Linked DNA regions of Homo sapiens. The protein of the gene in region 4 purifies or fractionates together with the protein of the main gene of each other region. This does not show direct contact. Each region holds a gene or a part of one and is shown on either strand. Other genes may lie near its edges.

The links.
Region 1: the proteins of NAV3 (region 4) and KDM3A purify together in Homo sapiens (affinity purification with mass spectrometry; one large-scale study listed by BioGRID and IntAct). This does not show direct contact.
Region 2: the proteins of NAV3 (region 4) and CUX2 purify together in Homo sapiens (affinity purification with mass spectrometry; one large-scale study listed by BioGRID and IntAct). This does not show direct contact.
Region 3: the proteins of NAV3 (region 4) and PDX1 purify together in Homo sapiens (affinity purification with mass spectrometry; one large-scale study listed by BioGRID and IntAct). This does not show direct contact.

The regions. Positions count from the first base shown.
Region 1 is NC_000002.12:86,444,371-86,450,386, reverse strand, and holds part of KDM3A (lysine-specific demethylase 3A), read right to left. Parts: intron 581-6,016; coding exon 425-580; intron 1-424. UniProt on the Homo sapiens protein: Histone demethylase that specifically demethylates 'Lys-9' of histone H3, thereby playing a central role in histone code.
Region 2 is NC_000012.12:111,315,277-111,323,423, forward strand, and holds part of CUX2 (homeobox protein cut-like 2), read left to right. Parts: intron 1-4,735; coding exon 4,736-5,499; intron 5,500-7,144; coding exon 7,145-7,304; intron 7,305-8,147. UniProt on the Homo sapiens protein: Transcription factor involved in the control of neuronal proliferation and differentiation in the brain. Regulates dendrite development and branching, dendritic spine formation, and synaptogenesis in cortical layers II-III.
Region 3 is NC_000013.11:27,920,448-27,928,908, reverse strand, and holds the end of PDX1 (pancreas/duodenum homeobox protein 1), read right to left. Parts: coding exon 8,365-8,461; intron 4,654-8,364; coding exon 4,208-4,653; 3' UTR 2,596-4,207; downstream 1-2,595. UniProt on the Homo sapiens protein: Activates insulin, somatostatin, glucokinase, islet amyloid polypeptide and glucose transporter type 2 gene transcription. Particularly involved in glucose-dependent regulation of insulin gene transcription.
Region 4 is NC_000012.12:78,002,648-78,010,794, reverse strand, and holds part of NAV3 (neuron navigator 3), read right to left. Parts: intron 4,377-8,147; coding exon 3,350-4,376; intron 1-3,349. UniProt on the Homo sapiens protein: Plays a role in cell migration. May be involved in neuron regeneration. May regulate IL2 production by T-cells.

The DNA.
Region 1 (6,016 bases), on a different chromosome or scaffold from region 4:
GCTCTAGCCCATTGCTGCCATAAGGCTCCAGTGTTGCCATTATCTTGTAGATTTTTTAAGAGACAATGGAAATCTAGATTTTCAGATGTATTCTCCACATTTTTTAAAGTAGGCAATTAATTCAAATGTTTTGAAAGTACTGCAAGGGCCAAACCAAACAGATCTATATGTTTGCATATGACTGCTAGTTCCTGCCTTCTGACCTAGACATTCCCACTACTACCTCCATCCCTATTTGTCAAGTGAACACGAGGTCCAACAAAGTCAAGGGACTCGCTCAGAAGTGCAGAGTTCTTAAAAGGGCTGGCAGGAGATCCTGGGAGCTTTTCTGACTTTCTGGCATTACATTTACATATTCCTTTTGTACCCACAATGGATAAAATGCCCTCTTCTCAGGAGTTCAATAAGCCCAAGTTTTACTCACTATTGCAGGCCACTGTACAATTCGTTCAGAAATTTCAGGTGACTTTCGTTCAGCTAAAACCAAATTATGTTCTACTAAAAATGCTCTCCTTAGAAGGCTGTAGACTTCTATCCATCTTCTTTTCCTCCAAGATTCCCCATCAAATTCCACACACACCTAGACAGACAAAATTGGGGGGTGGGGGAAGCAGATTCAATTTATTAAAATAAGCATTACAAATGCCCCAGCTGAACTATACCTTCATTATTCTATTTGAATCCTTTATCTGGATGTGCTTTCCCCCTTCCAGCTCCCTCACTTCCTGTCACAGCCCACAATACATAATCACACATGAACCAGGCTTTGGCTCCCAACTCACTTCGGGATGCAGAAGTCAAGGCTTTTTGGGCCAGTCTGTGTCCCTAAAGTAAACCCCTGGGAAGCCCAGAAACCAAACAACCCCTACTTATCAGGCGTTTACATACATTAATTAGACATCTGAGCTTTTGGAATTGCAAGACAAAAATTTGAAACTCAAAAGATGTACTTAATAAAACTGCACTGTAATTGTCTATTGACAATATAAGTGGGCTTAAGATGACCCCCCATCACCACAATCCACCACCTCCTTTTGAATTCCTCTGGAATGAGTAAATTTAGCACAAGGCCTAATATACAGCACATCTTCAATATCCCTTTCAGTTGAATAAGCTAGGAAATTTACCACAGAATTTGGAGTCTTAAACTACTTGTTGGATAACATAGAAACGAGTGATTAACAAAATGACCACAAAGTTTTTCAGAACTATCTCTAGCTTCTTATATGAAAGTTAAACTACCTTGAAATATTGTTTTCCAAGTAATTGTAATGTTTTCTGCTTCTGACCTGCATAATACTTTTAACCCTAAGGCTACAACTCTTAAAACCTGTATACATATTTAAAGACATTAAGAAAATTCAGTCTAAAAGTGGGCTTCTGGGAGTGATCTATGAGTAGGAATTGTTTACAAAACCATAAAACTCAAAGTCATATAAAAGCATTGAAACACTCCAGCTTCCTTAACCTATTATAAATATGCTACCCCTTAACTTACTCTAGGTCCTCTTCAATGCTTTTTGTATTCTACCAATGACAATAAACTCCCTCGATATTCAGTGTAAAAATCACTGTTTTTATTTGATTTAAAATTCCTCCTCTTACTAAAGAGGTCTCTCATTTTGGTTTCCAGGAATTAGTTAATACATCTATCATCTATCAAATCTGTTCATCATTTTACAGACATCACTCATACATCCCTTTTCAACCTTCAGTTTATTAACTAGTTAACTTCATCTATCAGAGCACAATTCATATATCCTTTCCTCAAACAAACCTTCCCTTACCAAAGTGCCTCTCTCTCCCAAGAGAGGTCCCCATACTAACTGTACTCAAAGTTTTGTACTTTTCCGTCTTAGCTCTTATCCACACTTTGCATTATTTATTTGTTAACTGATTGACAATTAAATTCTAATAGGTCAAAGTCTGTCTCTGCTTTTGCTTACAACTGTATATCACTAGTATATGGAATCTAATTGGTACTCAAATACTTGTTAGCATAGATTAATGAATAAATTTCCCTCTGCATTGGGTTCCTATCTTGTTTCTCTCACCTGCTTAGAAGGCACTAAATTCCCACATTAGCCCCAATCCCAAACCTTCTCCAGTCTACAGGATAAAAATAAATGAAATCTAAGATCTATCCTACCCTTCTCAGCCAACAAAACATGCATCCCTAACCTCCCAGGCGACTTTACCTAGGAAACTACATATCTTCTTGGTATTTTAGGCTTTTAACTTTGCAGTTATTACTGAATACTTTCCAAATCAGAATAAATGTGAACACCCACGTGGCAAGGCCCACATACGTTTCTCCCTGGTTATATGTTTTCTATCACTGTAATCAACCAAATGGTCTTTCATAAAGGTGGGCAGAGACTGCCCATCTTCCTTTCTGTTTCCTAGCCACAGAATCCATATGCTCTGACATCTCCCCTAAATTGGCTAGTCTTTCTGCTCCATATTCACATCAACCTCAAACCCAACCAAGCTTTAGGTAGACAGTTTTCTTATTTATCAGCAATGTGGTATAAGAGGAATGAGCACACACAAATTCTAGATCCAGATTCAGAGACCTTGAATTCCCAGCTACACTGAATCTCTCTTAGAATGATTTTACATGTATAAAATAAAATACTTATGATTACAAAGGAAACCAACTAACTTGCACCCCAGGTTAAGAACCCTCACTTAGAAAATCTAAGTTCTCTCAATGTTTTTCAAAATGAAAAAAGTGACACCTCTCATTGCATAGTTAGGCATATTTTAAAAGACAGTGTATGTAAAGTGTCTGGCAAGACAACTAGGTAGTTTTAATACCTCCATGGTTAATTCAAATCTTATCAAGGTATCACTTATTAAGTTAGGAGCAGGGGAAAGAGGATCTTCAACACAATTATCTAATATCTATTCAGCAAAAAAAAAAAAAAGTGCAGAATTAAGAAGGATTAAGATCTTAAGTGGTTTCCCAAAACTTAAGCAACATCACAGTTCTTACCAGATCACTATCTAAAGCTTAAGATAACCCTAAACCAAAAGACAGACAGGGCCCCTTTCCATATCCCAATTTTTGAGTGATTTGAAAAAAAAAAAAAAAAGTTTACCTCCTTAAAAACAATTTAAGTTTATGACTTTCAAATATTATGCTGTATTAGCCAAAAATCACATTATTTTGGTTTGGAAAAAGATGACTTTAAAAAATATATAAGAAAACCAACAAGTTGTGAGCTTTCTTCAATATTGTTCAAAAGTTTCCTATCAAAACCATATATGTCAGTCAGGCATGGTGACTCACACCTGTAATCCCGGCACTTTGGGAGGCCAAGACAGGAGGATCACTCGAGTCCAGGAGTTCTAAACCAGCCAAGGCAACGTGGGGAAACTTCGTCTCTACAAAAAATACAAAAATTAACCAGGAGTGGTGGTGCCCACCTGTGGTCCTAGATATTCAGGAGGCTGAGGTGGGAGAATTGCTTGAGCCAAGGAAGTTGAGGCTGCAGTCAGCTATGATTGTGCCACTGCACTTCAGCCTGGGTGACAGAGTGAGACCCCATTTCCAGAAAAAACAAAGCATCTTTCATTTGTGCCTTAAGGTTTGAGGTTTTACACTTAATGACATCCCCCAAAAAAGCTTCTTCTGTGGACATTTCTACAAAAAAACACTTATTTTATTTTTTGAGACAGAGTCTCAATCTGTTGCCCAAGCTGGAGTGTAGTGGCGCGATCTCAGCTCACTGCATCCTCTGCCTCCCAGATGCAGGTGATTCTCGTGCCTCAGACTCCCAAGTAGCTGGGATTACAGGTGAGTGCCACCCACACCTGGCTAATTTTTGCATTTTTAGTAGAGACTGGGTTTCACCATGTTGGCCAGGTTGGTCTTGAACTCCTGACCTCCTGACCAGATGATCCACCCGTCTTGGCCTACCAAATTATTGGGATTACAGACATGAGCCACTGCGCCTGGCCTAAAAAGACATTTAAATTCAGTAAGAACTAAAGTGACTTGACCAAGCTCATGCAAGCTGACAGATGCAGCTAGTTTCTATTCTAAATTGTGTTATTTCACCCATGCTCCTTTGGCCCACAATGAGATGTGACTTACACTGTGTGGCTTCAAAGGCCAGAGTCAACTATGATTCACTACCTATAATTGTGAAATCTGCTCTTCTTTTAATGGGTATTTTGCAAATGTGTACCTTATTAGTACCTATGAAACACCTTGACCAAATGCTCGATATTTCAGATTTTTCAAGCCAATGTTTCCCCAACAGAAAATCTTTCTGATATATGAATTAATATTGTATCTAATAAACTAATATCAAAATCTCCCACTCTTACCATACTCTCATCTCACCTGACTATATGATTATAAAGGCCATCAGAAACACCAATGAAAATGTTTCCAAGTTTAAAAGCAGGAGCACAGAATGATATGGTTTTTAGACAAATTTTTAATTACATGTCTATTTTATGCCTTGCACTACAATGCAGGATACCACTTAATTCACTACTCCACAAAGAAATTAATTCCTTGTGCTTCCACTTATGTCTTCTTATGCCTAAATGTTTGTCGAAGATCCCAAGGTCCAGCATTCAATTAAAAGGGGTAAACAGTTTTTATACCGTGCTAGAAGTTTTTTCATTTTACATGGCTTGACTGGCAGCAGATTGCACTAACATTAAAGTTTCAATGGTGTGCAAAAATGAAAGGCTAGGCATTAGTCAAGGCACCAAATTGCTGACAATAGCAGGAAATGGTACATACAGATGGCAAGGACTAATTGCCTGCTAAGGACACCTGTAAGGACTAAGAAGGGGCATTAGACGCAAGAAACAGGTAGGCTTCAAAGAAAAAAGGACAAGTTAAGGAAGCAGGGCATTAGACTCAAGAAAAAGGTAGGCTTCAAAGAAAAAAGGACAAGTTAAGGAAGCAGGGCATTCCCACCACGCATAATTATGTGAACAAAATCAGCTAGGAAGCAACTCATTTCATACTCAAGTAGAAAGAGCAGGATAAAAATAAGATTAAAGCAGTCTTTATAGCCACATCTAATTAAGATCTGTTGTTATTCCAGATGAAGAGAATGCTACTGCCTCATCAGTAGATTCTTTCTAAACTGTTTCTCCATAGGAGAGGTAATAATTTTATGATTCCTTCACTTATCCATTCAAATAGCTGAGCACACACTACATGCCAAGCAGTGTTCTCGGTGCTAGGGATATAGAGGCTAGCAAAATAAAATGCTCTAACCTCGCTCTACCTGAATATTAAAGCCTAGTGTTTAAGGTCTGGAGACAAACTCAAGTTATTTAACTTCTTTAAGCCTCAGTTTTTGACACTAAAAATGTAGTTTACCATCTAGGATATTTGTGAGGATTAAATGAAGTAATCGCCACATAATATCCATTTAATGATTATTTTTTCTTTGCTAAATCCTGATGTAACCATTTAATCATAGTTATCCACTGTTATTATGTCTTCACCTTAACTTCTCTGTAACCAACTACTAGACATATTCTCTTTTTGTCATCTAAGTAAGTGGTTTTGTTATAAAGTCTCTCTAGGTGAAACAAAGTTAACAAGCCTTGGCCTCATTAATATCATCCATAACTATCTAAACAAGCCAGTCTAGACAGACTTGTATTTGTCCTAATAATAGAAGAATGGTTACATATTACTTGAATGTTATTTATTGACATTCATCTCAGCCCCTCGCCCCACCCCCATCTCACCCCCCAAAAACTTAATGCCCCTAAACCCTAGTGTAAGCATGGTCTTAGTTACTTGGTTCCTGCCTCCATCTCACCAAGCACAAATTGGTTTTGGTGTTTTGAGCCCAGGAGTTCCAGACCAGCCTGGGCAACAAGACCCCCCAACTCTAAAATCAAGGTAAAATAAAATCCTGGTTTTTTTTAATGCAACATGGCCCCCAAACTTAACATCTGCTACTCAACTAAGGAATGCAGTGATAAATCATGACTAGAAAAGAGACAGAAGATTGGCATCTTACATGAG
Region 2 (8,147 bases), about 33 Mb from region 4:
ATATAAGCTGTTCCATCATTGTTCATAAGAGTGACAAACTGGAAACAAAACAACCTAAGTGTCCAGCAGTGGGGGATCTGGTAAGTAAAGCAGATAATATCCCTTTAGCAGCATGTGCAGCCCTTAAAGGTAGAACTTTTAATGATAAGAAAAAATGGGGCCGGGCACAGTGGCTCACGCCTGTATAATCCCAACACTTTGGAAGGCCAAGACAGATGGATCACTTGAGGTCAGGAGTTGGAGACCAGCCTGGACCACATGGCAAAACCCCATCTCTACTAAAAATACAAAAATTAGCCAGGCATGGTAGTAGGAACCTGTAATCCCAGCTACTCAGGAGGCTGAGGCAGGAGAACCACTTGAACCTGGAAAGCAGAGGTTGCAGTGAGCCGAGATCGCGCCATTGCACTCCAGCCTGGGCAACAGAGCAAGACTCGGTCTCAAAAAAAAAGAAAAAATTTAGCTGGGCATAGTGGCAAATGCATGTAGTCCCAACTACTTGAGAGGCTGAGGCAGGAAGATCGCTTAAACCCAGGAGTTTGAGACTAGCCTGGGCAACATACCAAGACCCTGTCTCCAAAAAAGAAAAAAAGAAAAAAAACACTCATGTTGATACTAAATGGGGACAAACCAGACTACACTTCCACATATCGAGTATGATCATGCGATGCATGTAGTTTAGAAAACAGACTGGAAGGGAATACATGAGAATATTTCACGTGGTTGCTCCTAAGAGACAGTAAGGGTGACTTTCATTTTGATCTTGACTTTTTGTGCTTTTTTTTGCATGCTCCTCTGTGCTCCCATAGTAGGCAAGTATGAGTTTTTTTTAATCGAGGTAAAATTCTCATAACATAAAATTAAGCTTTTTTTTTTTTTTTTGAGACAGAGTTGTGCTCTTGTTGCCCAGACTGGAGTGCAGTGGCGCAATCTCGGCTCACCACAACCTCCGCCTCCTGGGTTCAAGTGATTCCGCCTCAGCCTCCCGAGTAGCTGGGATTACAGGCATGTGCCACCACGCCCGGTTAATTTTTTTTTTTTTAATTTTTAGTAGAGACGGGGTTTCTCCGTGTTGGTCAGGCTGGTCTCAATCTCCTGACCTCAGATGATCCGCCTGCCTCAACCTCCCAAAATGCTGGGATTACACGCTTGAGCCACCGCGCCCGGCACTTCTTTTTTTTTTTTTTTTTTGACAGAGTCTTTAGCTCTGTCGCCCAGGCTGGAGTGCAGTGGTGTGATCTCGGCTCACTGCAACCTCCACTTCCCAGGTTCAAGCAATTCTCCTGCCTCAGCCTCCTGAGTAGCTGGGATTACAGGTGCGTGCCACCACGCCCAGCTAATTTTTGTATTTTTAGTAGAGACGGGGTTTCACCACGTTGGCCAGACTGGTTTCAAATTCCTGAGGTCAAGTGATCGGCCTGCCTCAGTCTCCCAAAGTGCTGGGATTACAGACGTGAACCACCACGCCCGGCCAAAATTAACCATTTTAAAGTGTACAATTCAGTAGTAGTTAGTATAGTCAGTGTTATGCAACCATCATCTCTCTCCAGTTCACACATGTTCATCACCCCAGAAGGAAACCCTATACCCATTAAGCAGTGCTTCTCCTTTCCACTCTCCCCCCAGCCCCTGGAAACCACTGATCTGCATCCTGTTTCTGTGGATTGACCTGTTCTGCACATTTTGTGTAAATGGAATCATATCATATGTGCTACCTTGCGTCTGGCCTCTTTCACTCAGCCCCATGTTTGTAAGGCTTATTCCTGTTGTAGCCCCTGTTAGTGCTTCATTCCTTTTTATGACAAAATAATGTTCCATTGCTATATTACTTTTTAATTGGAAAAGCAATGAAAATTATTTTTAATGGGTCTAAGAGGACCCACTAGGATGAAAGCTACACAGAGATAATGAAGAAGGGGTTACATTGATCTGGCTTTCTGCAGAGCTAGAGAGACTCTGGTGTCGGGAACGCTTCTCTGAGGGCAGAGGGAAGCACCTTTTCATTTACTGGTTAATTGTCATTCCTCAGGGCACAGATCCATCTATTATCCTTGGTTCATGACACACTCTCAGGGCTGCCGCCTGCATGGCCTTCTCTCAGGTGTCTGTGTGTATGTGTGTACACACGTGCATATATATATATGTGTATATATGTGTGTGTATATTCATGCATTCATTCATTCGTTCACTCATGTAAATGACAGAATGAACCTCTGGGAACATATTGCCCAACCCAAGATTTAGAAAATTCCCAATAACTGAGATCTGGCATTTTCCTCCCCATCCCACCCCTGCCTTCCTCTCCCAGAGATGTCTTTCATCCTAAAATTTTGTCCTGTTGTTCCTTTGTGTTTGCCATTTGTAGAAAAGGTTTTTCACTAAATCATATAGTGTTTATGTTATTTGTTATGGAACTTGATAGAAAACATGTGATACCGACCGGGCGCGGTGGCTCACACCTGTAATCCTAGCACTTTAGGAGGCCAAGGTGGGCAGATCATTTGAGCTCAGGAGTTTGAGACCAGCCTGGCTAACATGGTGAAACCCGATCTCTACTAAAAATACAAAAAAAAATTAGCCAGGCCTGGTGGCGAGTGCCTGTAATCCCAGCTACTCGGGAGGCTGAGGCAAGAGAATTGCCTGAACCTGGGAGGCAGAAGTTGAGGTGAGCTGAGATCACGCCACTGCACTCCAGCCTGGGCAACAGAACAAGACTCAGTCAAAAAGAAAAAAGAAAAAAGAAAACGTGATACTGAGTGCCATCTTATTGGACTTGTTTTTGTTGTTGTTGTTGTTGTTATTGTTGTTGTTTTTTGAGATAGGCTCTCACTCTGTTGCCCAGGCTGGAGTGCAGTGGTGCAAACATGGCTCACTGCCACCTCGACCTCCCAGGATCAAGTGATCCTCCTGCCTCAGCTGGGACCGTAGGCATACACCACCATGCCTGGCTAATTTTTTTTTCTTTTTTCTTTTTTTTTTTTTTTTCACTTTTTTGTAGAGTCAGGGTCTCATTTTGTAGCCTAGGCTGGTCTTGAGCTCCTGGGCTCCAGTAATCCTCCTGCCTCACCCTCCCAAAGTGCTGGGATTATAAGCATAAGCCACTGCTCCCAGCCTTCACCTGCTTTTTTCACTCAATATTATGTTATTAGGATTCACACAAAGGGCACGGTAGCTCATACCTGTAGTCCTAGCTACTCGGGAGGCTGAGGCAGGAGAACCACTTGAGCCCAGGAGTTTGAGACCACAGAGAGCTATGATCGCACCTGAGATCGAGCCACTGCACTCCAGCCTGGGAAGCATAGCAAGACCACATCTCTTTTTTTAAAAAAAAAAAAAGATTCATATCTGATTTTGCATAAGGACTTCCTTTTTCACTGCTGCATAGTGTTCCATTGTGTGATCATCCCACTATTTTTTTTTCTAGAGATGGATGTCTCATTCTGTCACCCAGGTCGGAGTGCAATCTTGGTTCACTGCAGCCTCGAATTCCCAGGCTCAAGCAATGCTCCCAACTCAGACCCTGAGGTACAGGTGTGAGCCACCACGCCTGGCTAATTTTTGTATTTTTTGCAGAGACTGAGTTTTGCCATGTTGCCCAGGCTGGTCTCGAACTCCTAAACTCAGACAATTTGACTGCCTCAGCCTCCCAAAGTGCTGGGATGACAGGTGTGAGTCACTGTGCCTGGCCCATCCCACTGTTTTTGATCCATTCTCTGCATGGGCATTTGGATTCATTGCTATTAGAACAAGTGAAGGGCTGGGCACAGTGGCTCGAGCCTGTAATCTCTACACTTTGGGAGGCTGAGGAGGGCAGATCACTTGAGCCCAGGAGTTTGAGACCACCCTGGGCAATATGGCAAAACCCCGTCTCTACAAAAAATACAAAAATTAGCTGAGCATGGTGGCACATGCTTGTAGTCCCAGCACTTTGGGAGGCCCAGGCAGGAGAATCACTTGAAGCCAGGAGTTTGAAACCAGCCTGGGCAACATGGCAAGACCCCATCTCTATGAAAGAAAGGAAGGAAGAAAGGGAAGGGAAATGAGGAAGGAAAGAAATATTTTTAAAGAATTTTTTTTTTAAAACAGAACAAGTGAACAAGCCACTTTTCTGTGCCTTCGTGTTTTCTTTGTCTTTGAACATTTACATGGTTGGATCATTGCCTATGTAAAAGTCAGGTCAGGCCGGGCACTGTGGTTCATGCCTGTCATCTCAGCACTTTGGGAGGCTGAGGTGTAGATCACTTGAGCTCAGGAGTTCAAGACCAGCCTGGCCAACATGGCAAAACCCTGTCTCTACTAAAGCTAAATAGCTGGGCATGGTGGTGCACACCTGTAATCCCAGCTACTCAGGAGGCTGAGGTAGGAGAATTGCTGGAAGTGGGGAGGCAGAGGTTGCAGTGAGCTGAGATCGTGCCATTGCACTCCATCCTGAGCACCAGAGTGAGACTCCATCTCAAAACAAAACAAAACAAAAGTCAGGTCTGTGTTTGCATTGCATTATCCGCATGAGCATGTTCTCTGCATATGCCAAAACCTCACTGTCAACCGAATTTTGGGTGGCTGCCTAATATTCTGCCACAGGGAGGGATCATAATTTAGTTAGCCAATCCCCAGTTGCTGGACACAGAGGTTGCCTGGACACCGTGCTGGCATCAACAGGGATGCTGTGAACATCGTCCCCTGCATGCCGAGCCCTGACCCTGGGCCTCGGGCCGTCCTGTCCCCCTCCCCGCAGGCGAGCCCAAGACCTCGGTGGCCCCGCTGAGCATCGCCAACGGCACGACCCCCGCCAGCACCTCGGAGGACGCCATCAAGAGCATCCTGGAGCAGGCACGCCGTGAGATGCAGGCGCAACAGCAGGCGCTGCTGGAGATGGAGGTGGCGCCCAGGGGCCGCTCGGTGCCCCCCTCGCCCCCGGAGCGGCCATCACTGGCCACCGCGAGCCAGAACGGGGCCCCGGCCTTGGTGAAGCAGGAGGAGGGCAGCGGGGGCCCCGCGCAGGCGCCGCTCCCGGTCCTGTCCCCCGCCGCCTTCGTGCAGAGCATCATCCGCAAGGTCAAGTCCGAGATCGGCGACGCCGGCTACTTCGACCACCACTGGGCCTCCGACCGCGGCCTGCTCAGCCGCCCCTACGCCTCCGTGTCGCCCTCGCTGTCCTCCTCCTCCTCCTCTGGCTACTCTGGCCAGCCCAACGGCCGCGCCTGGCCCCGCGGGGACGAGGCCCCTGTGCCCCCCGAGGACGAGGCGGCGGCAGGGGCGGAGGACGAACCCCCCAGGACGGGCGAGCTCAAGGCTGAGGGCGCGACGGCCGAGGCGGGCGCGCGGCTGCCCTACTACCCGGCCTACGTGCCGCGCACCCTGAAGCCCACCGTGCCGCCGCTGACCCCCGAGCAGTACGAGCTGTACATGTACCGTGAGGTAGACACGCTGGAGCTCACCCGCCAGGTCAAGGAGAAGCTGGCCAAGAACGGCATCTGCCAGAGGATCTTCGGGGAGAAGGTGAGTGCAGGGCGGGCCCCCGGTGTCTGGGCTCTGGGAGAAGATGTCGGAGAAGTAGGATGCCCACCCAAGCAGGCTGGCGGGACCCCAGGGGCCCAGGCCCTTCATTCCTGAGTCCTGCTGTCCCTGGGTCCCGCAGGAAGGAGGGCCACTGTTCTGCTCCGTGGTTGTTAAAACCAGGAAATGCTTCCATCCTGGCCAGCAAACAGCCACTTAACTCCCCTCCTCCAGGCCCCTCCAGATCGCCTGAGGTCCAGCCACTAAAGGGTTAAGTGGCAGGACTTGGTGGCTCACGCCTGTAATCCCAGCACTTTGGGAGACGGAGGTGGGAAGATCTCTTGAGCCCAGAAGTTTGAGACCAGCCTGGCCAACGTGGTGAAACCCCGTCTCTACTAAAAAATACAAAAATTAAGCTGGGCACGGTGGCTCACACCTGTAATCCCAGCACTTTGGGAGGCTGAGGCGGGCAGATCATGAGATCAAGAGATCAAGACCATCCTGGCCAACATGGTGAAACCCCATCTCTACTAAAAATATAAAAATTAGCTGGGCTTGGTGTCCTGTGCCGGTATAGTCATGGCTACTTAGGAGACTGAGGCAGGAGCATCACTTGAACCTGGGAGGCAGGGGTTGCAGCGAGCCAAGATCTCGCTACTGTGCTCCAGCCTGGGTGACAGAACGATACTCCATCTCAAAAGAAAAAAAAAAAAGTGTTTGGGATCAGCCTGGGCAATGTAGCAAGACCCCCATCTCTACAAAATAAAAAAAATTAGCCAAGTGTGGTGGTGCACAGCTACTCAGGAGGCTGAGGTGGGAGAATTGCTTGAACCCAGGTGGTCGAGGCTACAGTGAGCCATGATCACACCAGTGCACTCCAGCCTGGGCAACAGAGCAAGACCTCATCCCCCCAAAAATAAATAAAAATTTAAAAAGAAAGGGTTAAATAAAGCTCACCCTAGCCAGGGGACCTCAGTGTTTCCTGATTGGTTGGTGCCCCTGCAATGCCAGTTTTAAGTGTCACCTCTACCTTTAGCAAGGGAATAGGCAAAGGGCCAGGCAAGCTCGGAGGAGGGAGAAATGACTTAAGTGGGAGGTCAGGGAAGGCTTCCTGGAGGAGGGGGGCACTGAAGGATTTTTACATGTAGGGACATTAGGGAGGGTACTGGAGGGGAAGGGCACAGCAACAGCACATGGCAGGCACCTATGAGGAACAAATGAAGGCCGCCTGGACTCCAACAGAGGGGAGGGGAGGGGATGGGAGGCTGGGCATGGTGGCTCACACCTATAATCCCAACACTGTGGGAGGCTGAGTTGGGTGGATCACTTGAGGTCAGGAGTTCGAAACCAGCCTGGCCAATGTGGCAAAACCCCATCTCTACTAAAAATACAAAAATTAGCCAGACGTGCACCAGCCTGGTACAAGTCCCAACTACTAAGGAGGCTGAGGCAGGAGAATCATTTGAACCTGGGAGGCGGAGTTTGCAGTGAGCTGAGATGGTGCCACTGCACTCCATCCTGGGCGACAGACAAAGCGAGACTCTGCCTCAAAAAAAAAAAAAAAAAAAAAAAGGTTGGGGAGGAGAGTGAGGGCCAGGCCCATGTCCCAGGGGCCTGCTGACCTACCCCCCTGGCCCGCCCCTCGCAGGTGCTGGGCCTGTCACAGGGCAGCGTGAGCGACATGCTGTCCCGGCCGAAGCCATGGAGCAAGCTGACGCAGAAGGGGCGGGAGCCCTTCATCCGCATGCAGCTGTGGCTCTCTGACCAGCTCGGCCAGGCAGTGGGCCAGCAGCCTGGTGCCTCCCAGGGTGAGTGCGGGCAGGAGCATCTCAGGGGGTGCTGGCAAACTTCCCACCTGCGCAGTGGCATGTCCGCCTGGCTTTACTGCCCGAGTCTACCTATCTCTCCCTCCCTGCTGCCCTGGCTTTCATCCCAGTCACTGTCATGGCTGCACTGGAACATGGCGGGGGGTCCTGGGGTTTCTCTGCTCCCCTTTCTTCCTTCCTCCAACCAGAGGGAGGCTTCTAGAAGCTGCACGCCTGATGCACTGGGTCCTGGCTTTAAGCCTCCAAGTGGCTCCATGGTGCTCAGAGCAGGTGGAGAATGTGTTTTGCATGTGGAGTCCCACATCTGGAATTGCTCATCGATCTCAGCTCTGTTTCCTGAAGACCTAGCGTGCAGCCTCAGACTCCTTCTTAGCACAGGGCCTTGGGCAGTGCCACCCAGCTGCCCATGATAGCACGAGCAGGCTGGAGTGTCAGCTTTGCCCGGGTGAGGAAACGGAGGCTCAGAGGGATGCCCAAAGTCCCAGAGTCCGGAAGTGCTAGGGGGAGCCCCAGCTCCCTGCCACTGTGGGGACCAGCGGATAAGTCTGCCAGGGCCCTGGTGAGGCACCTACCCGGGCCCTGCACTGGAATGAGGGCACGTGACTGCAAGGAGAGGACATCAGACCTGCCCACTGAGAAGGGCAGAGACCAGGGGAGGCCAGACCCTGAGTCCAAGGATCTGAGCTCAGTCTTGTCAATAGGACAAAACCATATCTCAGGTTCACAGAAACGAGCCAGGTCAGCAGGCCCATATCAACAGGAATATGGACTGGAAACATAATGTCAAGTGACAAAAGCCTCCATCCCAGTGACAGTGCTTACTAT
Region 3 (8,461 bases), on a different chromosome or scaffold from region 4:
GCTAACTGCGTTCAGCTTTGGCAGGAGCTCTGCTCTTCCTCTGCACCCAAGGCCACTTCCTCCGTTCCCCCACCCCAGACCTTTTGAAGGCCACTGGTGTCTGTCCATTATGAAAGGAGCGCGCCAAGCCCGAAGAACAGAGGAGAGCTGACAGCTCCCGGAGAAGTCAGGTACTGGGGTCAACCCTGGAGTTCTGGGACCAGATCACTTCCTTTGCAGAAAAGTCTTTCCCGAAGCCCAACTGGCTGCTTTTTTCGGCTTCCTTGGAGATCTCCTTACGGCCCCCTCACTCTGGAGAGCCCGGCACCGTGCACAGGCATGCAGTTCCGAGCGCCCTCGCCCCTCAGGGCCCACGATTCGCATCCACTGGCCAGTTGGCTGAGGGTGGCCGCTCAGAGTTTGAAGTACACATATCGGGCCCCACGCGAGTCTTCCTGTGGGGTCTGATCCAGGAGGTATCGGTCCAGCTGCCTAAGGGGTCGGGACGGAGCCCACCGTCCCGCCTCCGAGGCTTGGGTGGAGCCCAGAGGGGCGCTCCGCAGCATTCATTCCTTTCCCCATACTCTCCTCGAGGTCTCTCCGCCGAGCAGGACTTCGCTCTCCGCTGCCTCCCTGGGCCTCCCTGGAAGGTCGGTTTCTCCTGTTAACAACGCATCACCTCCGCCACCCCCACCAAGCGTACGGGAGACACCAGGTCCTGTCCTAAACTCTTCAAAGACATCATCATCTCCTTACCGCCTCCTTATGAGCCCACTGTATAGACAAGGAAATGGAGAGTTAAATGATGTAAGCAAAGCCACGAGTAGTAAGGAAGGACTGAATTCAAGCCCAAGGCGGCGCGACCTCCGGAGTCCGAGCTCTTCCCCGCGGGAGGCTCAGGCTCCGGTTGCCCGAGTCTCTGCCACCCAGAGAACTTCCAAGCAAAGCTCTGATCCCGGGCCCAACCCTGGTCAGTCGGAGGCCACACGCCTGCCCGAGTCATCCCGCGCCCTCGGCTGCCCGAAGACCAGTCTCAGGCAGCCTGTGCCTCTTCTCCTCTCCTTGGCGAACCCTCGGGTCTCGCGGAAAAGCAGCGGCTGGCCCAATTCGCAGAGCGAAGTCGGGGCCGGAGCCTTGGAGAGGGCGGCGGCTTCTGCGTGGGGTCCGAGGACAAGTTTCTGCGCCTCCACCAACTAACTGGTCGGCGGAGCTGCAGTTCTTTGCCTGGTGAAGTTTGCTGTGGAAAACCTAGGGAGTTTATTTATGAGGAAGGGCATCCTGAAACTAGGCAGTGTTCGGGAAAGATGAGTGGGTAGAGGAATAAAACTCATATCAACAGCGACAGTGTGGGGGTTTGCCAGAGGGGAGGGGCTGCCGGGGGACTGGTGGGGGACTTTAGAAACTCCACAACAGCAGCTCCCGATTGCCTCTGACGACGACGACGATGACAGCCTAAAACAATAGCTACTGTTTGTGGAGGGATTCCTAGATGCCGAATTAGCATTTTACAGGTATTTCTTGGTTTAAACCTCACAGCAACTCCATGAAGTAGTATTTGCCTCCACTTTCTGGATGAAGAAACTGAGTCACTGAGAGTTCGAATCATTTTATCAGGACTTCGGGCTGGGCCAATATTTGAGGGACCAAGGATGCGAGCGCAGATTTGCCCCACCCCAGAGCCCAGGCGGGTGTGGAGAACCGCAAGGAAAGAGCACTCTCAAGGATGCGCAAGTTCCCCTTTCTGATCCAAGGGACTTAATTTTATCCCGAGGGACTCGATATCTCTCTCCAGTAAAACAAAACAAAACAAAACGGCAACAACAAACAGCGTCTATCTTTGCAAAAAGTAAAAGAAAAGCAGCGACGCCTGGGAGTGAGGTACTGGTACTGAACACAGGGAGCGCCGGGGAGGGCCGTCGGGTGCACCACCGGGCTAAGGCGCCCATCTGAGAGCTTCCTGCAGGGAAGAGCAAAGTGGTCCTAGGGGTTGGAAGCCCTCTAAATCCGGGCATCTTTGCCTCTAACATAAGACACTTTTGGCCCTCGGCCTCCGGGGACAGAGACTCATCCAAAACAACGCTTCTTTTGGAAGGGTCACAGAAAACGGCCTCGCCTGCGTCCTCAGCTTTGGGAGGAAAGAGGAGACCTGACCATGGTGGGAGCCAGCGACGGGTCTCACCACCCGCAGCACTGAGGCGTCAGGTGGGCGGCGCTTGGCTCTGCCAGGAAGCAGTATTGGCCAGCAGTACTCCGAGCTGTCTCCCACGCTCTAGACTATATTACCCGAGAAAGTCATCATGAGAAGATATTCTTAAATTAAAAATAAAACAAAACTGGATATTCATCCCCTCACAGGGTGCTCCAACTCAAAACTCAAGTGCACTATTTCTTAATTACCTGATTTTTCCTGATTAGTACCGAAAAAAATAGACCCTGATCAGCCTGGCCATCATGGCGAAACCCTGTCTCTACTAAAAATACAAAAATTAGCCGGGCGTGGTGGTGTAAGCCTGTAATCCCAGCTACTCAGGAGGCTGAGGTAGGAGAATCCCTGAAAAAAAGAGGAACCCAGGAACGACAGAATGAGACCCTCTCAAACAAAAACAAAAACAAAACAAAACAAAACACGCTAATTTAATTTTAAAAGTGAATTCGAATCATCCCACTGCCAGAAAGGTTTGAAACAAAGTGAGGAGAATCAGTTTTCATCTCTTCCCATATTATCAGTATTTATTAAGCATTTCCCACAAACATAACCCGAGCACAAGGCCCAGACCTTGAAAAGAAGACAGACCTGGGATGCACAGACCTGTTTGTAAATAACTGTTAGGTAATTTTTAAAATGTTAAATAAGATAACTGGTTTTCCAAACCCTCCAATCACATACGTTTTCATAATTTCTAAAGATGTGAAGGTCATACTGGCTCGTGAATAGTTGTTGGTTTCCAAGGCGCACCAGGCCACTGTGCTTGTCTTCAGCACAGCCTCTACCTCGGAACAGGAATTACGTCCACATCCTAAATAGAAAGTTCCGAATATCTTTGGTTTAGTGGTCACCCAGGGGTCCATCTTTCTCCCTCACCCCCAGATCCAGGCCCGTCCCCCCTTGCCTTCCCTGCCAGCAGTGTGGAACTGGAGCACAGGGACTCTTGCACTGCTCCTAAGCCAGCCCTGCCGCTGCTCGCCCTGCCTTGCAAGATGTTCTCTTCCTCAGAAGAAAGGGGTGCAAGTTATAAGATGTGCAGTAGTGAAGTGTGCAGCTAGAGAAGAGGAAGAGGAGGGATGAGAAGGGGAGGTAGAAGGAGGAGGAGGAGAAAGAAAGAGGTCAGGAAGAAAGAGGAGGAGGAAGAGGAGGGAGAAGAAGAGGAGGAGGAGGAAGAGGACGGGGAAGAAGGGGAGCAAGAGGAGGGGGAGGAAAGGAGAGCACGTGGAAGAGGAGGAAGAGGAAGAGGAGGGAGAAGAAGAGGAGGAGGGAGAGGAGGGGGAAGAAGAGGAGGAGGGAGAGGAGGGGGAAGAAGAGGAGGAGGAGGAGAAAGAGGAGGGGGAGGAAAGGAGAGCAGGAGGAAGAGGAAGAGGAGGGAAAAGAGGAGGGGGAGGAAAGGAGAGCAGGAGGAAGAGGAAGAGGAGGGAAAAGAAGAGGAGGAGGAGGAAGGGGAGGGGGAAGAGGAGGAGGAGGAAGAGGAGGACTCACTGTATTCCACTGGCATCAATTTCACGGGATCTTTGAAAACTCAAACATTTCCTTTCAATTATTTCTAAACTTAAAGGGGTCGCCCGAGTAAGAATGGCTTTATGGCAGATTAAGGTACTCGGCCCAGCTTCCCCGCTGTGTGTGTTAGGGAGCCTTCCAATGTGTATGGTACAGTTTCCATTGTCTTTGAAGAGCCGGCTTCTCTAAACAGGTCCCAAGGTGGAGTGCTGTAGGAGGGCAGGGATGTGCGCAACAGCCACAAACAACGCCAATCCAGTATCACTAAAAGAGGGCCCCAATACTACAAAAACCAATGGCTCTTTTTCTTCCGGAAGGCCTGCCGGCATCTACCCGCGGGGCCCCAACTGGCACATGCGCCTGAGAGAGCGGGTTTTCCCCTTCGGTCTAAGGTGGGCCCCGCAATTGCCGCCCCATTCAACTGCCAGGGCGGGTGGTCCACGCCCGGGGTCCTCCTAGGCCCTCTGCTCCTCCTCGGCGAGTGGTTGAAGCCCCTCAGCCAGGAGCAGCTCCTGCCTCTCATCGTGGTTCCTGCGGCCGCCGAGGCGCGACGCTGGAGGGCTGTGGCGACGCGCTAAGGCCAGGCGGCAGGCGGCCCTCTCGGGCGGCAACGGGGGCAGCGGGCGGCACAGCACCTCCGGGGGGCGGCGGCGGCGGCAGCGCCAGAAGCTCCTCGCCGGAGGTCACGGCGCAGTCCTGCTCAGGCTCCGCGACCCCGCCACCCCCGACAGCTGTCCCGCCGCCGCGCTTCTTGTCCTCCTCCTTTTTCCACTTCATGCGGCGGTTTTGGAACCAGATCTTGATGTGTCTCTCGGTCAAGTTCAACATGACAGCCAGCTCCACCCGGCGCGGCCGTGAGATGTACTTGTTGAATAGGAACTCCTTCTCCAGCTCTAGCAGCTGTGCGCGCGTGTAGGCCGTGCGCGTCCGCTTGTTCTCCTCCGGCTCCGCAGCGTAGGCGCCGCCTGCGGGCGACACAGGGCGTGAGTGTGGCCCCCGGAGCCCCGCACAGCCCCCACCCACGCAGCCCAACCCCTTCAAGGGGGGCCAGGGAGCCCTAGCCCTACCAGCTGCTCCCGCCGGAGCCACCAAGCCCCAGCATCCCATTTCAGCGCCTAGTGTAGGCGCGCGAAGCTCTTCCCTAGTAACTCAAGCCCTTCCTAATAAAGATAGCCTTTTTATTGGAGACCAAACTCGAGTCAGCTCTCGCCGTGAGCCTAAGCTTGGCTCTGCCAATGAGTGGTCCTTGAATGCGCTCATATAATCGGTGTTAATCAACTGATTGATGTTGATTTAAATGTATATAATAGTTAAACCGGCTGGATCCTACAAAGGCAATAAAACGCCTTTAATCCAGGGCTAAAAAAAACCTCCTGATGGTGACCCACAAATGTGAGAAATACATTTCGGATCGTTGTGTAGTTCACACACGGACACTGCAGGTCAGTTATACTGACAAATCTTAAGGACATAAAACAAACGTTTACCACGTATGATGCTATCTACTTTTCTCTCCATTATCTGCTATTTCGTTTAAAAAATACTAATCTCAACCTAGTAAATTGATTTTATGACCTGCGAATGGGTGCAACCTGCAGTTTGAAAATCTTTGTGCTAATGGAGACTGTGACACATTTTGTTATATCTGACCATGTGTTTCCTCTCTCTATAGTTATATCGTAATTAGTCCCAACCTGAGAGCCAGCAAATTCTCCATAATTGTTTTAACTTCAGCCGGACTTCTGCCCGCGAAGTGAAGGAATATTGTTCTGGGGGTCACGTTGGCCAGGGCAGAACTCTGGCAGCTCCAGACTCTACGCCCTGGATCCCAAATGCCCTCAGAGGTGTTGAGGGGAGACACAGGGGCCCTAGCCCAGCTGCAGAACCGACAGCCCTACGGAGGAGGTGGTAGTGGTGCAGAAACAAGCCTCTCGTGTCTCCAAGAGGCAACAGGACGCCCTGGCCCAGGAGGTTGGAGACCCACATTCACTGTTTGCCGCTGCGCTCAGCCAGGTCCCAATCTTTTCTTTTCTGTGGAAAATACTGACTGCACCCAGGCTGTGGACGCTGGCGCGGGAAGTTCCACCAAAGTTCCGGGGAGAGGCTTGTCTTAGAGCAAAGGCAGGGGACATTTCTCCTGTGAATGTTGGCTAAGCCTTAAGGAATTGAAAGGCGAGTGTGTGTGTGTTGGGGGCGGGTTTAATTTCGCGATGGAACCCTACTGGGTTTCCCCCCAGGTCGAGAAGAGGCGCCAGAAGCTGAAGCAGAGGCTCAAACCCTAGTCCAGGGAGAGTTCTACTCCCTGGGGGCATCCCCGAATCTACCTGGCATCCCACGCCTGGGAGAGAAGCGAGACGGGCCTTCAATAAACATTTTGAAAGGCTCTCCAAAGTTTTTACATTAAACCGACATGTCTCTGGGTTCCTGCCTTAGGCTGCGGGCTTCGTATAGTCCCTGCGAGAGGGCTTCGTGAAGTCCCTGCGAGAGACTGCTCAGGGAGAGACTTCCTGGGGTGCACTATTCCCGGGGGACCTGTGCTCAGCGCGACGCGGCAGGGGTGGAGGTTGAGGATGGTGGGAAAAGGTCAAGGTCGCCAAGCCTGGGCCCTTCCCCAAGGCGCAGAGTGATGCAGTTTAGGTGCCAGCTGGACAGCGCTGCTGAAGCATTTGGGGGTCAATGTTTTTCAAAACCTCTGTTGTCATTAGCATTCAGATTCGTACTGCCAGTGAGAGCCCTTTTGTCACTTCGCTCTTCCCAGGGGCAGGTGGGTTTGCAATTTTTGAATTTCGGCTCCATCGAAGTTTCCCCTAGAGGAACGCGGGGATAGCAGCCGGCCCCGCAGACGGCTTCCAGGGGAAGAGAGGGGAGGTCGTCTCCTTCCCCGAGAGTCGAGCATGCAGCGGGTTAGAGGGCGCCAGCAAAGGCCTGGGGCCAACTCCAGCCCGAGAGTGTCGCCCTCCTTGGGTCCCCGAACCCTCGCCAAGGCTGCTGATTTGCCTTCTGGTTTTACTTTCTGGCTTCTTGGGTCAGCCTAAGCCCAAGTCCTCCAGAGCAGAGGTATCACCCCTTGGGTTGGGATAGGGAAGTTACTCCACCTCACAAATCCTCTTTCGGGACCCTGATGTCGCCCATTTCCTGAGGAAGGCCCAGGGTGGGAAAGCAGGAGCTCCGAGGGCCTAGGAGGCCAGAAGAGAGGTCTGGAGGGGAGGCAGCCCTGGAAGAAAACTGGGTGAGGACGAGGAGCCCCCCACCTTTGTTCGAGGGACTGTCCTCCCGCCTCCTAAGAACCCCGCATTTCCGGAGACTTCAAGGCCTTTGGCCCGGGCTGCGCGAGCTGGATAAATTTGCAGAGGCGCCGCGGCAGCTTCTGGCGCCCCTGTCAACTGGGTTTCGCTGGAGGTGGGGACGATTGCAGCGCAGTTCAGCCCTCGTCCTGCCTCAGGACCTTCGCCTTAGCAAGAAAGTGAACTAGGAAGAAGAGAGTCCCGTGGACCCCAGGCAAGCTGGGGTCCCCCTCCCTCTCCCGCACAAAGCCCCTCCTGGCTGCGCCTGGGGTCAGTGTCAGGCAGGGCTGGCCAGACCCCGCAGATGGGCGCTGAGGATTTTCGGGGTGGGCCGGGGGACGCCGGCTCGAGCTGCTTCCCCCTACTCCCGGCTGCCAGTTGAAAGGAAAAGGCAACTATTTGCGGTGCAGGTGTGACCAGAAGTGGCTGAGGCACGGCAGCGATGACAGTGAGTAGCGGCGACGACACAGGCCGCGCCGGAACTTGCCGCTCGCGCGGGGCCGCAAAGGACCCGGGGGCTACCCCGTGCCTCCGGCTCCCGGCTCCGGGAAAGACCTTCTGTTCTCTGCCGGCGCGGAGGGCCGCAGGAACCAGGCCTCTCGCCTCCCCACCAGCTAGGCAGGGAGCGCCCATCTCCTGAAAAATTACTTCCTGGGAAGCGGTGCGGGGAGACAGCTTCAATTGCTTTCGGTTGGTGAAAAACGAATTCGCTTCTCAGATTGCTCTCCTAGCTGCCAGGCTCTGACGTTGAGAGGCCGGCTTTCAGCCTCGCGGTGAGCCCCCGCCTTGCCCCAGCCCCTTCCTCTTTACTCCTATCCTGTTTCCACAACCAGGGCAGCCGGACACTGCTGGGTTGGGTGCAGTTTCCTTTCCCTCCCTGCCTTTCTGCACCTACCTGGCGCCCCTAGATGCCTGCCCTTCCTTAACGAAGCGCGGGAAGTGAGGGGCTCCGGGGCTCCGAAGGCGATCTGGGGCCTGGGTCCGAGGCACCCATGTCCCTACTCGGCTTCCTCGATGTGCACTACCAAGGAGTCCTGGGTTCCCGGATCCCCTGCTGGAGGAGGATCTGTAGTGTCCGAAGCCCTGAGCAGGACTCAGCCTCGGCTCTCTAAGGATGGCGCTGGGAGCGCGGGCTCCTGGGGCGAAGATGGGCTCAGCGAACAGGGAAGGAAGGAGTGTACACTCCCAGGAGAGCTGGGTGGGAAAGATGCTTCAAACTGGACTAGAGAAGCACTGCTGTGAGGGATGGGCTCGGTAGCTCCCTGATGTAGTTTAGTCCGACCCGGGATAATCCAAGGCGCCGGGAACAGAGAGAAGGCTCCTGGGAGCGCTTGGAGGTAAGGCGGCCGGGTGAGAACCGGAAAGGAGAAAGGGGTGGGGAGCCAGGCTTACCTGCCCACTGGCCTTTCCACGCGTGAGCTTTGGTAGACTTCATCCATGGGAAAGGCAGCTGGACGCGGTTGGGCTCCTCCAGGACGCCCGGCTCGGC
Region 4 (8,147 bases):
ATATAAAAGTTATTTAATTATATTTACATATCATATATATATGTATCTGTATACATTTATATAATTTATACTAATTAACAGCAATTACCATTTTCAATTATAAATGAGTTCTGATTGAGAATTTTGCAAGTGTACTATTGGCATTTTCCTAACCAGAATTTTCTCAGTAACAATACCTCTTATTTCTGTCACATAGATAGAACTGATAAGCAAAGCAAATTTCTACTAGCTTTATGATCTGAAGAGATTATTACTATTCTGACTTAATATCTCTGCTTCTTCATTTCTGGAAAATGGGGGATGACATTTTTTCTCATGAGTTCATGATGAAGTTTAAATGAGAAAATTCACATATATTTTGTGACACAAAGATTTTCACTAAGTAAGCACTCAACAAATGATAATACCAACATCAAAAAGTAAATTATTAGTCTTATCTCATCAAATGATTAGCAACTCCAAAAATAATTGTCAGGGATTTTATAGGAGGGATTCTTACATGGGGATAGAACAGTGAAAGTCAGAAAGAACATAAAAGGTTACATAATCCAAATGTCATGACTCTATAAACAAGCTTTTACTGAAAGCTGAAAAGAATGAATATTAACCACTCTGCCTTTTGAGGATTTACATATTATTTGTAAAATTGTTCTGCATTGATTTAAAAACTTTGAATGAATATTACTTTATATATAGACTTCAATGTGAAATTTTATGAGACAGTTTTAATTTATTTATTTATTGTAGAAACAGGGTCTTGCTCTGGTGTACAGGCTGGTCTCAAAGTCCTGGCCTCAAGTCATCCTCCCACCTTGGCCTCCCAAAATGCTGGGATTACAGGCATGAGCCACCATGCCAACCATAGTTTCATTTATTTTTAGCTATCTTATATTGTTGATAATAATAAAAATAATTACTGATATTCATGTAATTTGCTCAAAATCTGGCTGTGTGCTAAAAATTTTACATGGGATTATTTTCTTTAATCTTTCATACAATCAATCGAGGTAGGCATCCTTTATCAATCATACTTTATAGGATTAGAAAGTGAAGTTTAGGGAAGGCTGTTTACTATGTGGCAGATACTGTTCTACAGATAAATATCAACTCAATCTTCAAAATAGGCTAATGAGGTAGCTTCTACAATTATCATACCTATTTCACAGATTAGGAAATTGTGGGTCAGAATCTTTACATATATGACCCAAAGTAACACAACTGATCAGTGGTGGCATTGAGATTCCCACCTAGGCAACCACCACCACAAGATGCTGTTTCTGAACAATGGTAGAGTAAGACATATTCTATCGCCCTTTTTTTCTCTTTTTTTTTTTTTTTTTTTTTTTTTTGAGTTTCCCTCTTGTTACCCAGGCTGCAGTGCAAATGCACGATCTCAGCTCACTGCAACCTCTGCCACCTCCTGGGTTCAAGCGATTCTCCTCCTGCTTCAGCCTCTCTAATGCCTCTTTTCTTAGCTACTTGGCTACACTGCCTCACTTTTATAGTCTTGTTGTTAAAGAGGTCAAACAGAAACTCAAAGAGTTTCTCAAAGAACTCATCAGGTTCACACAGCGGATCCACACTGTAACTTCTAAGCTGTGCTGCTGTGCTGCTTCCTGTTTTTGATATTTAAAAGTTACATTTTCAAATGGAAACCACTAAATTTGTTTCCACTGGATATTTTATTGCAAACAATTTTTTTAAAAGCTTGTTGCTACTTATAGAAAGAAGCCTACTAAATTAGCAGTTCTAGATTTACACTTTCCTATGAAATTCACTTGTGATTTTTTGAAAGGATTGATGTTTTTACAGAATATATTTGTAATCCAAAAGTGTGCTGAGTATGACATATTTAAAACTTCATGATTTTTTTTCTCACGTTTTTGAAATGTGGATCATGATTTTGACATCTTAAATTCTGCTTTGTCAAACAGGGACCCTGGAGTCAGAAGGAGCTGCAGACTCCCATCTGATCCAAATACAAGTATTTTAAATGAGTTAGTACTATTGAAGTCAGAATAGCAACATTCAATTGTAATGTCCCAAGAGCTTAAATGTAATAATTATAATAATTTTGTTTTGCTGAGTGTATAAAAAACCTCAGAAAAAAAGCACTTACATTCCTCATTGAGCAAAAAAATAAATCAGTATAAACTGCTTTATTTTAAAAACTTTTACATTCAAAAAATTTAATAAAATTTTAAACTATATAGTTTTGACCCTTTCTTAATTATAGTGGGTCCTGCTTCCTATTCATAAAATTTTCTTTCTGTAGTTAAATTGCCAACCTGCCCGAAAGAGGGACAAAGCAGACATTATTGCTCCCCAGGCCATCTCCTTACCAACCAAGCAGTGAATAAACTGGGGACACAGCAGTTACTGACATATCTCTAATCGATTAAAACAAATCACAGAACAACAAGCAAAGTGTTGTCTTTACCATTTGGATGGTAGGATGCATATTTTAAAATGCATAATAATGCATTTAAAAATTTTATATTGTGTATTTCAATGCCTACAAAATAAGAATGCAAAGTAAAATAAACAATAAATAAATAAAAGGTAAAAAAAAAACAAATCAGTAATACAACCCAAATAAGTAATACAAATTATATATGTAACCCCTTTTACCTAGAAACCTATGCCTTGCTGTGGGAAATTAATATAAAATTTACACTGAGAAAGTAATATCTTATAAATAACATTTGAAGAACATTTGCAACACATCAGGATATACAGTAAACATGTTATATGCATGACCTCTGTTAATAGTCTCAACTCTACAAAGTAGTGCATGGTTCCTATTTGACAGCTGAAGAAAATGAGACTAAAGAATGTTAAGTAACTTTCCCAATGTCTTATAGCTGAAAAGTGGCAGAACTAGGAATGAAATCCGCAACTTTATCATTTCAGAGGCTGCCTCTTTAACCATTATGGTATACTTTCTCCCAAAGATGACAACAAAAATAACCGTAAACGATGTAAAAGTGAGAATTATTTTAAAAGTCTGCCGCTAGTAATAGAAGCAGTATAGTAGTAGCAATAATATGAATAAACACAAGAGAAAGTTGTGGCATCTGGTTTCTAGCTGGCTTTTGATAACAAGTAATTCAATTTTTGAAGGTCTCAATTGCTGACAGGGAATGAGAGAGGGAATAAAACTAGATCCTACTGGAAGTCTTTTTCCAGACTAAGATTCCGCACTGAATTCTAGGCCTCTATCTTTAGCATGAAACTTTACTCCAAAATGACGACATAAAGCACCACTTTATCAGCCTTCCCTATTACACTCTGAGTATGTAGGCCTGTAAATATATTTACAACTGTGGATAAACAGAGGCCACCTTACCTGTAAATGAATGGTGCCACTGTCGCGGTATTCGGGTGGCTATGTTGCTGCTGTTGAGGGAGTTGGACAGCACCATTTCCTGTGCTCTGCCCACTGCTTTGTGCCACTGTCATGGTACAGGAACCAGAAGGAGAAGCTTGGCCAGCTTCCCTTCCTTCCAAAGGGGCAGGACAACTAGAAGCACTTGCTTTCTCCATGGTTATAGGCTTAGATAAGGACTGGGAAGGGCTCCCCTTGGTAGTCCTGAATTTCTCAGACTCTTTGCTTGCTGTGCTGCCAGGTGAAATGGTTTGCTTTACTGTTGGAACTTTAGAGCCTGGTTTTGGAATACCACTGGAAGACGGAATTAAGCTTTCCTTCTTAGCTGCTGTTGTCTTGCTGCCCTTAGGGATCAAGCTTGCAATTTTGGAGGTCTTTTTTGGAGCCATCTCTGTCACCTGATCCTTCTCTTCTTTGACTGGTTTTTCAGTGCAAACTTTATTTTTGTCCCTGTTCTTTTCTTCTTTTTCCTTTGGCTGTAGCAAAGACTTTTTATTGCTGAGATTTTTGCTTCCAGCTTTTGGAGGGGCCAACTTAGGTGACACTTTGGGACTGCTATTTGTTGAGCCACCACTATTCAGACCACTGTTAAAACCTTCCATTTCACCAGATTCAGAAAAGGCATCATCATCCTTCCCACCATCACTAGGTCCTGAACTGGGAGGCTGCGGGGGGCGTAAAGCAGTCCGGGCATTGACTAGCTTGAATTTCTCAAGCATGGATTTCTGTCCTGAGGGAGCAGTTTTGACCCCTTCTGAGACAGGTGGCTTCAGTCTGTCTGAAGATGGTGTGGGGGAGGTGGCTGTACTTGACTGCTTTACAGTCAACATGGTGGAGGTGGCACTGTGTTTGACATTCATGGACTTGCTGCGCCAGGGCTTGCTGGCACTTGGAGAAGGGATGGCAGAGGCAGGAGGCTGCCCAGCAGTACTGGGAGGCTGCACGTTACCATTTACACCTGAAGACGATTGAGGTCCTTTGGAGGAATCTGGACATTGTTTAGAAGAAAAATAAAGAAAAGGCGATTAATCTTGATCATTTATATTACATAATTGAGAACTTCCAAACTATTGATGGATAGAAGTCTCTCTCCTCTGAACTGAAAAGAGACTGCAGCATCAATCACTTCTCTGATGTGATTTTTTTTTACCATATTTCAAAAATGCAGAGTGTTTGAGAGGCATTGATTCTGGGGTGGGGGCTGTGGGGGGACGTGTTTATTTTCCCCTCTGAAATTACTCTTACCCAAATAAATTTGCTAGTCACAGATATCCAAAGATGAACAAAACACTATCCCTCCTCTAAGCAATTCTCTTTGTTATTTTCCAACCACCACTGTAGCCCATGCTAGTAAATGGATATTCCACCTTGCCCTATAAAAATATGTTGTATAATGCTTGAACTCGGGAAGCAGAGGTTGCAGTGAGCTGAGATCTCACTGCTGCCCTCCAGCCTGGATGACAGAGCAAGACTCTCTCTCAAAAAAAAAAGTTATTTATGATATTTCGCTTTATTCTATAATGAATATAATATGAATAATTATTACAAATATAATTATGCTAACTGACATTTTATTGAAGGTTCTCTAACTGCATTATTTCACAACAGCCCATTGAAGTGGGAAGGGCTCATATTCCTAATTCCCATTTGTAGAAACCAGAGCTTAGTAAGCTTCATTCAATGATTTAGGTATCTAATGAGGAGTGTATGGTGGAGCTAGGCTTTGACCCCACATCTTGTCACTCTACAGCCCAAGCTCTATAATTTTCTTGGAATGTCAAACATTCTAAGTGTTTACCACAGTCATTCTCAAAACTTTAATGTGCACACATGATACTTGGGGATCCTGTTAAATGCACATGTGATACAGCAGGTCTGCAGTGGGCCCTGAGGTTCTGCATTGCCAACAATCTTCTGAATGATGCCGTTGCTGCTCACACACAAGTCATACTTTGAGTAGCAAGGGTTGAGTAGACTCACAAATTCTGAAAACTGTTGGCCTTTTCAGTTTTAAAGGGCTGTTTCTTAACACAGTCCCCCAAATTGCTAAATTCATTAAATGTTTCATAGCTATGCAATATTAACATTTTTTACTGAACTTTCAGAACCTTGGCTAGCTCTGAGTTCACCTGGATGTTTAGCAGTTTGCTTCAAATAATCTCTAAAACCAAAATAAACTCTTCAGGTTCCCCTAATGTCATTTTTTCTCATCTCTTTGTCCACATACTTGTTATGTATCTTCTGTGCATCTACAACTAGGTTAAGAAGTAAGAGTGTGCCTGGGAGCTTCGGTGGGGTTGATCGGAGAGGGTAGAAAAGAACCAGTCAGGATGCTTTTTTAACTGGCTGATGAACAAGGGACATAAGAGAAGGTGCTCTTTCCTTAGAAAAGAGAAACAAGTTGAAGACATTAGCTAGAAGACTGCTATAGAAGTTCAAGTACAGAAGAGGAATTTCAACATCACTGCACCCAAAACTGAAACAAGAGGGACTCTGAATTATGACATCCACATCCAACCCACAGTAATAGTCATAACAGCAGCTGTAACATCATTCTCAGGCGAGTACACACATATAAGATACTTCCTGAAGCTCCGCTCTAAATCTGTCCACAGCCTGTCCCTATACAGAGGCAATGAGATGCTTCAGATTTCATTAAGAGGGCAAATCATAGGTTGTTGTGCATCAGGAAGGCACTGGAATAATAAGAGTCTCTCTGGACTCCTCACAGTAAAGATTGCACAACAGCAGCTGAAATGGCAGCACCTGTAGTTTCTACAGAATGAATGTAGTCACAAATTATAATCGTTGCCATTTATATATTCAGGAATAAGTAGCCTGGTCTCAATGACATATTTCTGAATGTTGATTACTCAACTTCTGACTATGAATGAATCTCAGCATGGGGAAAATAACAGATTTCTAATGCACATATTTAAAGGCATTCCAAAAATGGATTTGTATCTTGCATTTTTATGGGCTATCTCTGCTTACAGCCTTACCTCTTGTCTATGGTCCCCAAATAGCAATTTGCTTCCACTCCCTGTCTTCTGCTTCCTCTTCTTATACCTCACCTACACTCACCATTGCCAACTCCACCATAACCAAATAATATTATTCATCTACTGCTTACTTTATTCCAAGTACATAATAAGTACTTCATACATGGTATCTCATTTAAACCCATAATAATCTACAATATGCTTATGATCTCTCTTGTTAAAAATGAGAAAATGAAAACTTAGAAAGATAATTTGTTTTCAATCATACATATGGCAAAACTTAGAAAAAACAAAATCTAAATTGGAACTCATTTTTATCTGACTCAAACATTTGGAAGATTTTCACTGTCTCTTCTTTCCACATGTTTACTGCATGCCAGAAATTCTGCTGAAATGGCTCTCCAGCAAGCCACATTTATCGCACAGTCAAGTTAATTGGGTAACTCCTTGTTTTCCTTCTTCCTTGGTGAGCAGGATATAAATGGGGAGAACATCACACAAGACACTTTATTCAGGTATTATATACCTTCTTCTTTAGCATCTTACTTGCACCTGTTCCTCTGAGTTGATGTGAGAATAGATATTCGTTCACACTTGCAAAACATCTAAATTCACAGAACTAATGTCTAGTTATCTCATCTTGTAAATAAACAATATTGATGACTTGGGAACAATGCCAACCAAGTTCTAAAATTAATACATGGATGTAAATGTGGCAGTCACAACAGGCATATGGAAAGTTTATAGTGGGACATTTCTCTCTGGAACCTCAGTTAGCTGTAGAGTTAGCACCATGTTACCAAGAGTGGTATCAGTCTGAGAAAGGACATAGAGATGATTCTTAATCGCTTATCTCTTTTTCCTCACTGAATAGTGCGTTGCTTTGACAAAAGTAAACTAGGTTCCAACTCTGAAATATAATAAGTGACAACAAAAATGATGACAAAAGCACCATTCATTTCTGAAGTATTTCCTGCATGGCAGGCATTGTGCTCATTGATATAGATGGTCCCTGCTGAATATAGGATACTTTAAGCATCACAGATCGTGGTGGAAAGAGGAAAATGATTAAACAATGTGGCTATGCCACTTATTTTGATAAATAATTAGGACTTTAATTCCACAACAACATACCAAATGCTTTAAAAAAATTAAGTTGAAGAAAAGTGGCAGTCAAATCTAAATATGTCTTGGTATTAAGTGGATCCTCATGCACCTCCTCACACTGCTTTGCATAAATAATTGCTCGTGTATTGCCTCAGTCATCAATTTTATAGTGACTCAAAAGAAACATGGGGTGGAGTTTTATAGGGATCCTAGAAGAGCTGTTCATTCTGCACATGCTTATATTGTACCTTTGCAATATTAGAGTGCCACTCTGTGGAGAGTTGTACAATTTAGAGAAGCTTACATTCACTCACCAGCCAGTATGTAATTTATGTACAGGCATATATACTTTGTGGACACCTCAATATTTGTGCATGTATGCATAAACCAACAACACATATGGCCAAGTCTATTTAGTCTTATAAATTGATATATACATAGATATAAATATATAGATATAGATATATACATATATTTACACATATGCACCTAGTTATGGTAACTCATGGAAAGAATACTAAAATCCCTGAAATTATGACATTAACAACGTATTTTAGGCTTATATAAGTATTAAGTAATAAAGCATTAAAATGCATAATTAGATCACCAGTAAAATAATAACTAAAGCACATTTGCACTGGCTTGAAAAG